2 separate regions of the Homo sapiens genome follow, and region 2 is linked to region 1. Evidence: fine-mapped expression QTL. A gene starts in region 1. The other region holds a variant in brackets. All regions are shown on one strand. Distances are from middle to middle.

What was found. PIP is the estimated chance that this variant, and not a neighbour inherited with it, causes the effect. A credible set is the group of variants that fine-mapping cannot tell apart.
Region 2: its variant is the best candidate, but not a certain one, in a credible set for the expression of ZFP1 in lymphoblastoid cells (GEUVADIS, PIP 0.66).

What each region holds. Positions count from the first base shown.
Region 1 is chr16:75,145,476-75,150,856 of GRCh38, forward strand. ZFP1 (ZFP1 zinc finger protein) reads left to right here and starts at 3,049. Exons shown (of 4, transcript NM_153688.4): 1 at 3,049-3,168. RefSeq lists an enhancer at 2,860-2,909 and a silencer at 3,270-3,639.
Region 2 is chr16:75,165,467-75,170,847 of GRCh38, forward strand. ZFP1 (ZFP1 zinc finger protein) reads left to right here. Exons shown (of 4, transcript NM_153688.4): 3 at 1,304-1,430; 4 at 3,787-5,381. The coding sequence ends at 4,868. Among named protein-coding and RNA genes, the nearest start is that of ZFP1, 20 kb to the left of the region's middle. The variant G/GA (reference allele first, on the strand shown) is at 3,081.

The DNA of each region.
Region 1 (5,381 bases):
TTCACGCCTGTACGTTGCCTTTTCCAAGACCATTGTGGCCCACCCTGCTCTCTATCCTGTGCCCATAAGAACCCCAAATCCCAGGCTCCACAAACAGAAGAGCAGCAGAGGGGCAGAGGGGCAGAGCTGCAGAGCAAGGTGGTGGAGAAGGAGAAAAGAGAAGAAGCAATTGAGCATTGAAGAGGTAGCTGGATGGTCAGAGAGGAATTTGGCCAGGGACAGCAGAACTCCAGGGGACGATTATCTTCCCACGCCATCCCCTTTCCAGCTCCCCATCCTGCTGAGAGCCACCTCCCTCACTCAATAAAACCTCTGCATTTACCATTCTTCAAGTCCATGTGACCTGATCCTTTCTGGATGCTGGACAAGGACCTGGGTATTAAGAGGGCAGGGTGTAAAAGGCTGTCACCCTCACTCTCCACTGAGCTGGTTAACGCTTAGCTGTCCATGGATGGCAACTGCTAGAAGAGCATTAATTGTAACACACCCCTAGATGCTACCATGGGGCCAGAGCCCAAAGGTGCTCACCCTGGCCCTGGCACCCACTTGCCTCTGTGCTCCCCCTCCCATAAGGGGTTTTAGCACAGTGGCTGAGTAAGCTAGCCACGACAAGTCCCGCGAAGGGGTCCAGGGAACTCTCCTGTCTCATTAACATACTGTTACCACACAATCCAGCAACCATGCTAATTTTTTTTTTTTTTTTTGGAGACGGGGTCTCGCTCTGTCGCCCAGGCTGGAGTTCATTGGTGCAATCTCGGCTCACTGCAAGCTCCGCCTCCCAGGTTCACGCCATTCTCCTGGCTCAGCCTCCCAAGTAGCCGAGGCTACAGGTGCCCGCCACCACGCCCGGCTAATTTTTATTTTTGTATTTTTATTAGAGACAGGGTTTCGCTGTGTTAGCCAGGATGGTCTCGATCTCCTGACCTCGTGATCCGCCCGCCTCGGCCTCCCAAAGTGCTGGGATTACAGGCGTGAGCCACTGCACCCGGCCGCAACCATACGATTTACCCAAATGAACTGGAAACTTATATCCTCACAAAACCTGAACACAGATGTTTAGAGCAGCTTTATTCATAGTTGCCAAAACTTAGAAGCAACCAATGTATCTTCAGTAGGTGAATGGATTTAAAACACTGGTACATGCAGACAGTAGAATATTATGCAGCACTAAAACGAACTGAGGCTGGGCACAGTGGCTCATCCCTATAATCCCCGCACTTTGGGAGGCCAAGGCAGGAGGATTTCTTGATCCCAGGAGTTTGAGACGAGCCTGGGCAACATGGCAAAATGCCATCTCTACAAAAAATACAAAAAATTACCCAGGCATGGCTGTGTATGCCTGTAGTTTTAGCTACTTGGGAGGCTGAACTGGGAGGGTCACTTGAGCCCAGGAAGTGGAGGCTGCAGTGAGCCATGATCGCACCACTGCACTCCAACCTGGGTGACAGAGTGAGACCCTGTGTCAAAAAAAAAAAAAAAAAAAAAAAGCCAGGGTAACTTGAGGGAAACATGAGGGAAACTTAAATGTATATTACTAAATGAAAGAAGCCAATCTGAAAAAGCAACATATGTATGATTCCACCTATATGACAACCTGCAAAAGGCAAAACTATGGAGACAGTAAAAATATCAGAGATTTCCAGGGGTTGTGGGATGGATGAATAAATGGAGCACAGATGATTTTTTGGGGGGCAGTGAAACTATTCTGTACGATACTGTAATGGTTACAGGCATTTGTCAAGACCCATAGAATGTACAACATCAAGTGAACACTAATGTAAGCTATGGACTTTGGGTGCCAATGATTTTGTTTTTTAATTTATACTTTTTGAGACAGGGTCACCCAAGCTGGAGTGCAGTGGCACAATCTTGGCTCACTGAAACCTCAGCCTCCCAGGCTCAAGTGATCCTCCCACCTCAGCCTCCCGAGTAGCTGGGACTACAGGTGCGTGCCACCATGCCCGGCTAATTTTTGTATTTTTTTTTTTTTTTTAAGAGATGAGGTTTCACCATTTTGGCCAGGCTGGTTTCAAATTCCTCGGCTCAAGCAATCTGCTTGCCTCAGGCTCCCAAAGTGCTAGGATTACAGGTGTGAGCCACTGAGCCTGGCCAGGTGCTGATATTTAACTGTAGGTTCACCAATTGTAACAAATACACTGTTCTGGTGTGGGATATCAACTTTGGGGAGGTTGTGTGTGCTGGGGGGACATGGGTTATATGGGAATTCAATGTATTTTCTGCTCAAATTTTGCTGTGAACCTAAAACTGTTCTAAAGGATGAAAGGAACTGAGGGTGAAGGGAAATGGGAAGATGGTGGTCAAGGGGTACAAAGTCTCAGTTATGCAAGATGAGTAGTTCTGGGGAGATGCACAGCTATGTGACGATAGTTGACAATATTGTGTACTTGAAATTTGCTAAGAAGATAGATCTTAAGTGTTCTCATCAGACAAATAACTATGTGAGGTGATGCACATGTTAATTAGCTTGATTATGGTGAATATTTCACAAATGTAGATATCAAGTTGTACATCTTAAATATATAGATCTCAACAAATATATATACCTCAACAAAGTGGCCTGGGAAAAAAGGGAAAAAAGCTAGTTGCAGCACATGATACCTTTATGGCCAGTTTTGTAACAACAACAAAAAAATCAAAGTGCGAACTTAATGTTATACGCAGTTAATCTTTAGAAAGTGAGATTATGGATACTTTATTTTGTACATATATTCTAATTAAATACAGTTATAGATTATTTGTGTAATGTTTAAAAGCCAAGTTGTTGTATTTAAGGGGGAGGTGGTGAATTGTAGTTCACGACCCACTCTGGGAAAAAAGAAAACAGTGCAGGCTAAGGAGATTATTTTGGTCGGCTCATCAGACCGCCTAACAAGGCGAAGACTTTCCTGAGAGTCCCTAAAGCCGCGGCCCCGGAGGCTTGTGGGAAATGTAGTCCCGAACGTGGATGGTCCACCCCTCCGAGGACCCTGGGAACGGCCCGCGCCCCTGTTTCTGCGCATGTGCAGTGCTGCGAGCGCGCCGGTGGCCGCCCTTCCCCCACCACCAGCGGCGAGTGGGTGACAGAGCCCCCGTCTCCGCGCGTCTTCGCCGCCCTGCGCCGTGACCCGCTGTGGCACTGGGCCACGAGTGGAGGCTGCGCCCCTCCAGGTACGAGAGGGGCTTCCAGGTAGCTCCGCGCGGCCTGGGGCCGAGGGGAAGGAGATGAGGGATGGGCTCGTGCCCGCGCAGGGTGGGAGCCCAAACTTCGGCTACTCGTAGGCGGCAGTGACCCTCAGGGCGGCGTCCGGGGTTGCCCGGCGCTCGCCTCTGAACGGGGCCGGCGGGGCACGCCTGGCCGAACGTGCGGGGGCGGGGACGGCGGAGGGAAGGGCGGCTATGAGGCTTCGCCTTCTTCTCTTTGTCAGGAGATGCGCCTCAGACGGGCGGCGAAGGGCTCGGGCCGCGCGGGAGCGAGTTCTGGAGCCCCGGCGGGCGCGCGCGCGCGGGACGAGGCCCCGCCGGGGCGTGGTGGGGGCGTGGCCTGACACACCTGGCCACGCCCCGATGCCCGGTGCCTCGTGGGTGGAGGAAGGACTGGAGCCTGGTCAGTTGCCGGTGGTGAAGGAGAACCGTGATCCCTTTGTCAGAGGGTCTTCAGTGAGGTGTTCCCCTGATCCTCGCATCCACCCCGTGACTTCCAGCGTTATCATCTCCGTCGCTATCCCAGGAACACGGGAGGTTCAGAAGGGGAAAGTGATTTCCCTAAGGTCTCACAACCCGGTGGTACTTTATGTGAGCAGCAGATATTTTTTCATTTATCTTTTGATTTTACTCGCTGGTAGATTTTGCCATGTATACGTTTTGACGTTTTAAATTTCTCTCGGGTGGAATTTACTGTTCTTTCCGTTTGGGGCACCCAAAATTCTTCACTACTTTGAAATACGAAAGTTTTCCCATGATTCTGGTGCAGTCACGCTCTGCGTAACAGTGTTTCTGTCAACGAGGGACCTCATGTAAAATGGTGGTCCTATGTGATTGTAATACTATATTTTTGTATTGTACCGTTTCTTTTCTTTACTTTCTTTTTTTTTTTTTTTTTTTTGAGACGGAGTCTCGCTCTGTCGTCCAGGCTGGAGTGCAGTGGCTTGATCTCGGCTCACTGCAACCTCCGCCTCCTGGGTTAAAGTAGTGCTCTGCCTCAGCCTCCCGAGTAGCTGGGATTACAGGCGTGAGCCACCGCGTCCGGCCAGACACAATTTATTGATGTAACTGTTCCTCTAAATACTACTTTAACTACATCACTCAAATTTTTATATCTTGTATTTTCTTTTCTGTTGTTGTTGTTTTTGAGACTGAGTCTCACTCTGTCACCCAGGCTGGAGTGCAGTGGCACTCAGCTCACTGAAACCTCTGCCTCCCGGGTTCAAGCAGTCCTCCTGGCTGGGATTACAGGCACCCGCCACTACACCTGGCTGATTTTTGTATTTTTAGTAGAGACGGGGTTTCACCATGTTGGCCCGGCTGCTCTAGAACTCTTGACCTCAAGTGATTCTCCCGCCTTGGCTTCCCAAAGTGCTGGGATTACAGGCATGAACCACTGCACCCAGCCTTTTTATTGTGTTTTCATTACCATTCAATTCAAATTTTTTTAACTTCCCTTGTGACTTCATTTTTTACCCTTATTTATTTAGATTGTATTGCATAATTTCCAAGTTTTTGGAGATTTTCCAGATCTTTTTTTTTTTTTTTTTGAGACAGAGTCTCGCTCTGTTGCCCAGTCTGGAGTGCAGTAGCGAGATCTCGGCTCACTGCAAGCTCCGCCTACCAGGTTCACACCATTCTCCTGCCTCAGCCTCCAGAGTAGCTGGGACTACAGGCGCCCGCCACTACACCTGGCTAATTTTTTTATTTTTTTTTGTATTTTTAGTAGAGACGGGGTTTCACCGTGTTAGCCAGGATGGTCTCTATCTCCTGACCTGGTGATCCACCTGCCTCGGCCTTGCAAAGTGCTGGGATCACAGGCGTGAGCCATCGCACCCGGCCCAGATCTTTTTATATTATTGATTTATAGTTTAATTCTGATTTGGTCAGAATACTGTGTTACGAATTTCAATTATTTTAAATTTGTTGTGGTTTGTTTTTGTATTGTATTTTTGTTTCATTTTGTTTTAGTAGACTCCTGGTCTCAAGTGATCCGCTGACCTTGGCCTCCCAAAGTGCTTTACAGGCGTGAGCCACTGCACCAGGCCTGTTGTAGTTTGTTTTAAGGTCGAGGATATGATGATCTCTCTGGGTAACTGTTTCGTGTGTATTTGAATAAATATTGTGCTGTTGATCGTAGAATCTTCCTTGATTGATTGATTGATTGAGACAGGGTCTGT
Region 2 (5,381 bases), 20 kb after region 1:
TCACTGCAGCCTCCACCTCCCAGGTTCAAGCAATTCTCCTGTCCCAGCCTCCCGAGTAGCTGGGATTACAGGCGCCCTCTACCACACCCGGATAATTTTTGTATTTTTAGTAGAGATGGGGTTTCACCATCTTTGCCAGGTTGGTCCCGAACACCTGTGATCCGCCCACCTCGGCTTCCTAAAGTGCTGGGATTACAGGCCTGAGCCTGGCCACCTCTGGGGTTTTAAATCAGTTTTGTTATATGCTGAGTATTTTTTTTTTTTAATGTACTTATTGTACTTGGGGTTGCTGGTTTTAAAACTATAGCCTGGTGTGGGGTGTGTTGGAAAATTCTCAGCTGTTATCTCTTCAAATATTGTTTCCACTGCCTCTGCTGGGACTCCTGCTGCAAGTATATTAGACCTTTTTAGCTTGTCCCACATATCTTTTAGGCTCCTTAATGTACCTTTTGCATTTCAGTTTAGATATTTACTGACATTTTTTGACTAATCATTTCTTCAGCCATTCTGGCCTGTTAAATTCAACCATGTATTTTTTAAAAAAATTTTCTACCATTTTTATGGCTTGAATGAGGGGATGGAAGGACAGAGATCCTTACTTGTACCTGGTATTTTACAGTTGGAAGTTCATCTTCTGCCTTAAAGAGTTAAAACTTTGACTATTTAAACATCGATGTCACAGAAATAATGCCTATGTGAGCTTTATTAGCACACTGGTAACAATGAATATCTAATGTGCTTGTCTCACAGTACACATCTTGAGAGCAGAAACAGTGTTTATTTTTTGAGACAGTCTTACTCTGTTGCCCAGGCTGGAGTATAGTGGTGCAGTCTTGGCTCACTGCAGCCTCTGCCTCCCGGGTTTAAGCAGTTCTCCTGTCTCAGCTCCCCCACGTAGCTGGGAGTACAGGCATGTGCCACCATGCCCGACTAAATTTTAGTAGAGATGGGATTTCACCATGTTGTCCAGGCTGGTCTCGAACTCCCGACCTCAAGTGATTCCCCCGCCCACCTAGCCTCCCAAAGTGCTGGGATTACAGGTGTGAGCCACTATGCCTGGCCAATAGTGTTTTATTAATCTGAGACACCTATCAAATATGACAGTGCCAGAGATATAGGGGAATCTGAATAAATCTCAACTATTTATAAAAATATATTTTGGAAGACATGAACAAAAACAGTGAACAAGATGTATCGTTGGTGTAATATATAGATTTTCATGATGAATGACATAAAGTTTTCATCTATCCTTTCTATATCACCAAATGATCATCTTAGGATGAATAACAATATGCCATTTCAGGGATCAGTTTCATTCACGGATGTGACTGTGGACTTTACCCAGGAGGAATGGGAACAACTGGACCCCTCTCAGAGGATCCTATACATGGATGTGATGCTGGAGAATTATAGCAACTTACTTTCAGTGGGTAAGGACGGTTTTCAGGTACAGCTCACCATGTGCCTAGAGGTATTTATGTCCTGTCTCAGTGACCAGAAATGAGCTTCTGAATTACTAAATGTTTTTGGCCTAAGTCCTCAGGTATTAAACCTGAGAGATCTTGCAGCCTTTAAAGCTCTATCATCTCCTTTCCTTTAAGGCTTCTGAAGTCCAGGCAATTAGGAGCTATGTCCCATTAGTAAATGGCTGTCAAGCCATATGCAATTTTCAAGTTGGAGCAACCAGAAGAGTTTTGGGTAGCATAGAGTTGTCAATTCAGAACATTCTAAGGGAGATAGGACGGGAGAGAGGGAGAAGCAGAAGCCAGTGGAATTAGTATCCAGACGATTATGAGCAGCTCAGTACCTTTGAAATACTTTTCAGCAATCTGTTTTTCAAATCCCTAACACTTAAGTATAGCTGAGGACAGATGACCTGTACCTCAATCTCTGAAGCATACCTCCAAATATCCGTCTCTCCCTGCTTACCTTTTTTTTTTTCCTGTTTAATCTTATAGATATTTGCCTCTCACACTTGAACCCTGAAACTTTCCTAACATATCTTAAACTTTGTTGTGTCTTGTACATGTACCATTCTTTTCCAGTCCACCATTAATGGGCACCTAGGTTGATTCCATGTCTTTGCTATTATGCATAGTGCTGTGATGAACCTATGAGTGGGCATGTGTCTTTTTGGTAGAATCTTTTTTTGAGACAGGGTCTCATTCTGTCACCCAGGCTAGAATCCAGTGGTGACATCACGGTGCACTGTAGCGTCCACCTCCTGAGCTCAAGTAGTCTTCCCACCTCAGCCTGGAGTAGCTGGGATCACAGACACACACCACCATGTCCTGCTAATTATTTTTTACTTTTGTAGAGACAAGTTCTCTGTAGAACTCCTGACCCCAGGCCAGGCGCCATGGCTCATGCTTATAATCCTAGCATTTTGGGAGGCTGAGGCGGGCAGATCACCTGAGGTCAGTTCAATACCAGCACCAACAACATGGTGAAAACCCCTCTCTACTAAAAATACAAAATAAGCCGGGCATGGTGGCATGTGCCTGTAATCCCAGCTACTCGGGAGACGGAGGTTGCAGTGAGCTGAGATCACACCATTATACTCCAGCCTGGGCAACAGAGACCGACCCCATCTCAAAAAAACAAAAATAAGACCTCCTGACTTCAAGTGATCCTCCTGCCTTGGCCTCCCAAAGTGCTGGGATTACAGGCATGAGCCAGTGTGCCTGGCCAGATGATTTTTAATGGGATTGCTATGTGAAAGGGTAGTTCTGAATTATTTGAGAAATCTTCAGACTGTTCTCCACAGTGGCTGAACTAATTTAAATTCCCACCAACAGTGTATCTTAGCCTTGCCAGTATCTGTTGTTTGACTTAATGAACCTGGGTAACTTTATCCTTAAGATGCTGAACACATTGAAAGAAGTAGGCTGGGCATGGTGGCTCATGCCTGGAATATTGAGAGTATCCCTTGAGCCCAGGAGGTCAAGGCTGCAGTGAGCTATGATTGTGCCACTGCACTCCAGCCTGGGCAAATGAGGGAGACCCTATCTCTAAATAGGAATGGAAGAAAAGTAGGATATGATAGTGAAAACATGTTCACTCTCCCAGCAACTTCAGTA[G/GA]AAAAAAAAAAGCAATAAAACCAGCAGCAGTTAGTGATCCTGTGGTAAGGGTTGTGTATCTCTTAGCGAATGAGTTTCTGGATTTTACCATTTGCAAGATTCTCACTTAAGAGATTTGGAGCTCTGCTATCTGGTTGTCACTGCAAACCTATGAGAAGTGCTGTTCTCTGGAAATCATTTTGGTAAAGATGAACAGTAGAAAAAAAGGAGAAAAAGCTTAGAACTATGCAGACTGGTGCTGGTTCTACCATAGTAGTCCGAGTTTAGCAAATAATACTATTAGTCGAGATCTGCTTAGGTGTTTCCCCTTAATTCCCTCATCTGCTTACTTTCTCGGTCTCTGTGCTAACTGCAGTGTCCTTAAGAACACTGTGAATCTCCCTCCCTGGCATTGCCAGCCTTCTCATATTGTGTTCTGTTTTCTGTCTCCTTTCACCCTCTCTGCCCACTTTAAGGTCATTTTGTGATCTGGCAATGCTACTTGTATTGATTTTGGTTTTGTTTTGTTTTTTTAACCACAAGCTATTACCTTTCTCTTTCAAAGTTTGAAAGGAAACATTTGCACTGGGAATTTTTTAATATTGGGAGACTGGGTCCCAAACTAAAGAGTCAGCCCTGTGATAGAACACGTGTGAAGACTTCCCATTCGGTAACATTATAGCGGAGGCATTGACAAGGTTCTTTTCATTGTGCTCTCTATTCCTAGAAGTGTGGAAGGCTGATGACCAGATGGAGAGAGACCACAGAAACCCAGACGAGCAGGCGAGGCAATTTTTAATTCTTAAGAACCAAACCCCAATTGAGGAAAGAGGCGATCTCTTTGGAAAAGCACTTAATCTGAACACAGACTTTGTTTCTTTAAGACAAGTACCTTATAAATATGACTTATATGAAAAAACTTTGAAATATAATTCAGACTTGCTTAATAGTAATAGAAGCTATGCAGGAAAGCAGACTGATGAGTGTAATGAATTTGGAAAAGCACTTCTCTACCTGAAGCAAGAGAAAACCCACAGTGGAGTAGAATATTCTGAATACAATAAAAGTGGAAAAGCCCTCAGCCATAAAGCAGCCATTTTTAAACATCAGAAAATAAAAAACTTGGTTCAACCTTTCATTTGTACTTACTGTGACAAGGCTTTCTCCTTTAAGTCACTCCTCATTAGTCATAAGAGAATACATACTGGAGAAAAGCCATATGAATGCAATGTATGTAAGAAAACCTTCTCCCATAAGGCCAACCTCATCAAACATCAGAGAATTCACACTGGGGAGAAACCTTTCGAGTGTCCGGAATGTGGAAAAGCTTTCACCCACCAGTCAAACCTCATTGTACACCAGAGAGCACATATGGAGAAGAAGCCCTATGAGTGCAGTGAATGTGGAAAGACATTTGCCCAAAAGTTTGAACTCACCACACACCAGAGAATTCATACAGGAGAGCGACCCTATGAGTGTAACGAATGTGCAAAAACCTTCTTTAAGAAGTCAAACCTTATCATACATCAGAAGATTCACACGGGGGAGAAACGCTATGAGTGCAGTGAATGTGGAAAATCCTTTATCCAGAACTCACAGCTCATCATACACATGAGAACTCATACAGGAGAGAAACCCTATGAATGTACTGAGTGCGGCAAAACTTTCAGCCAGAGGTCAACTCTTAGATTACACTTGCGAATCCACACAGGAGAGAAACCATATGAGTGTTCCGAATGTGGGAAGGCCTTTAGCAGGAAGTCCCGACTCAGTGTCCATCAGAGAGTTCACATCGGGGAGAAACCCTGAAACTCCAGCCAGGTCTTACTGTGGAAAACTCCTGCCAGAACTCTTCAAGCGGGTGAAAAACCTCATGACAGTATTGAGGGAACATGGGAATTCATACTGAGATGCAATCTCTCAACTCAAAAATGTATTAAAAATAGGATCCCATGAGAACATTATACTGGAAGTTACATGTGATACCCAGCTAAAGAATACATATCAGAATATATCCAGTTGTAAATAGCCATACCCAGTTGTACTACAATGAGCTTTTTAAAATCTTGAATGAATTGAGTATTCTAGACAGCAGCATAAGAAATATACAAACAGTATCCTATGAATTTAGTGGTTTTATGTGGATATGCCACAAAACACAAGTGGTATGCTTTAGATCTGCACATGTGAATTTAGCATAATCACTGGGAATTTGAAATTCTTGTCCTCTGTGATAATTAGGACATAACAAGATTTTCCATACTAAACATCACATGTGTTTTTCAGTATCTCTGCAATCCAGTATGCATTCCAAATGAAATG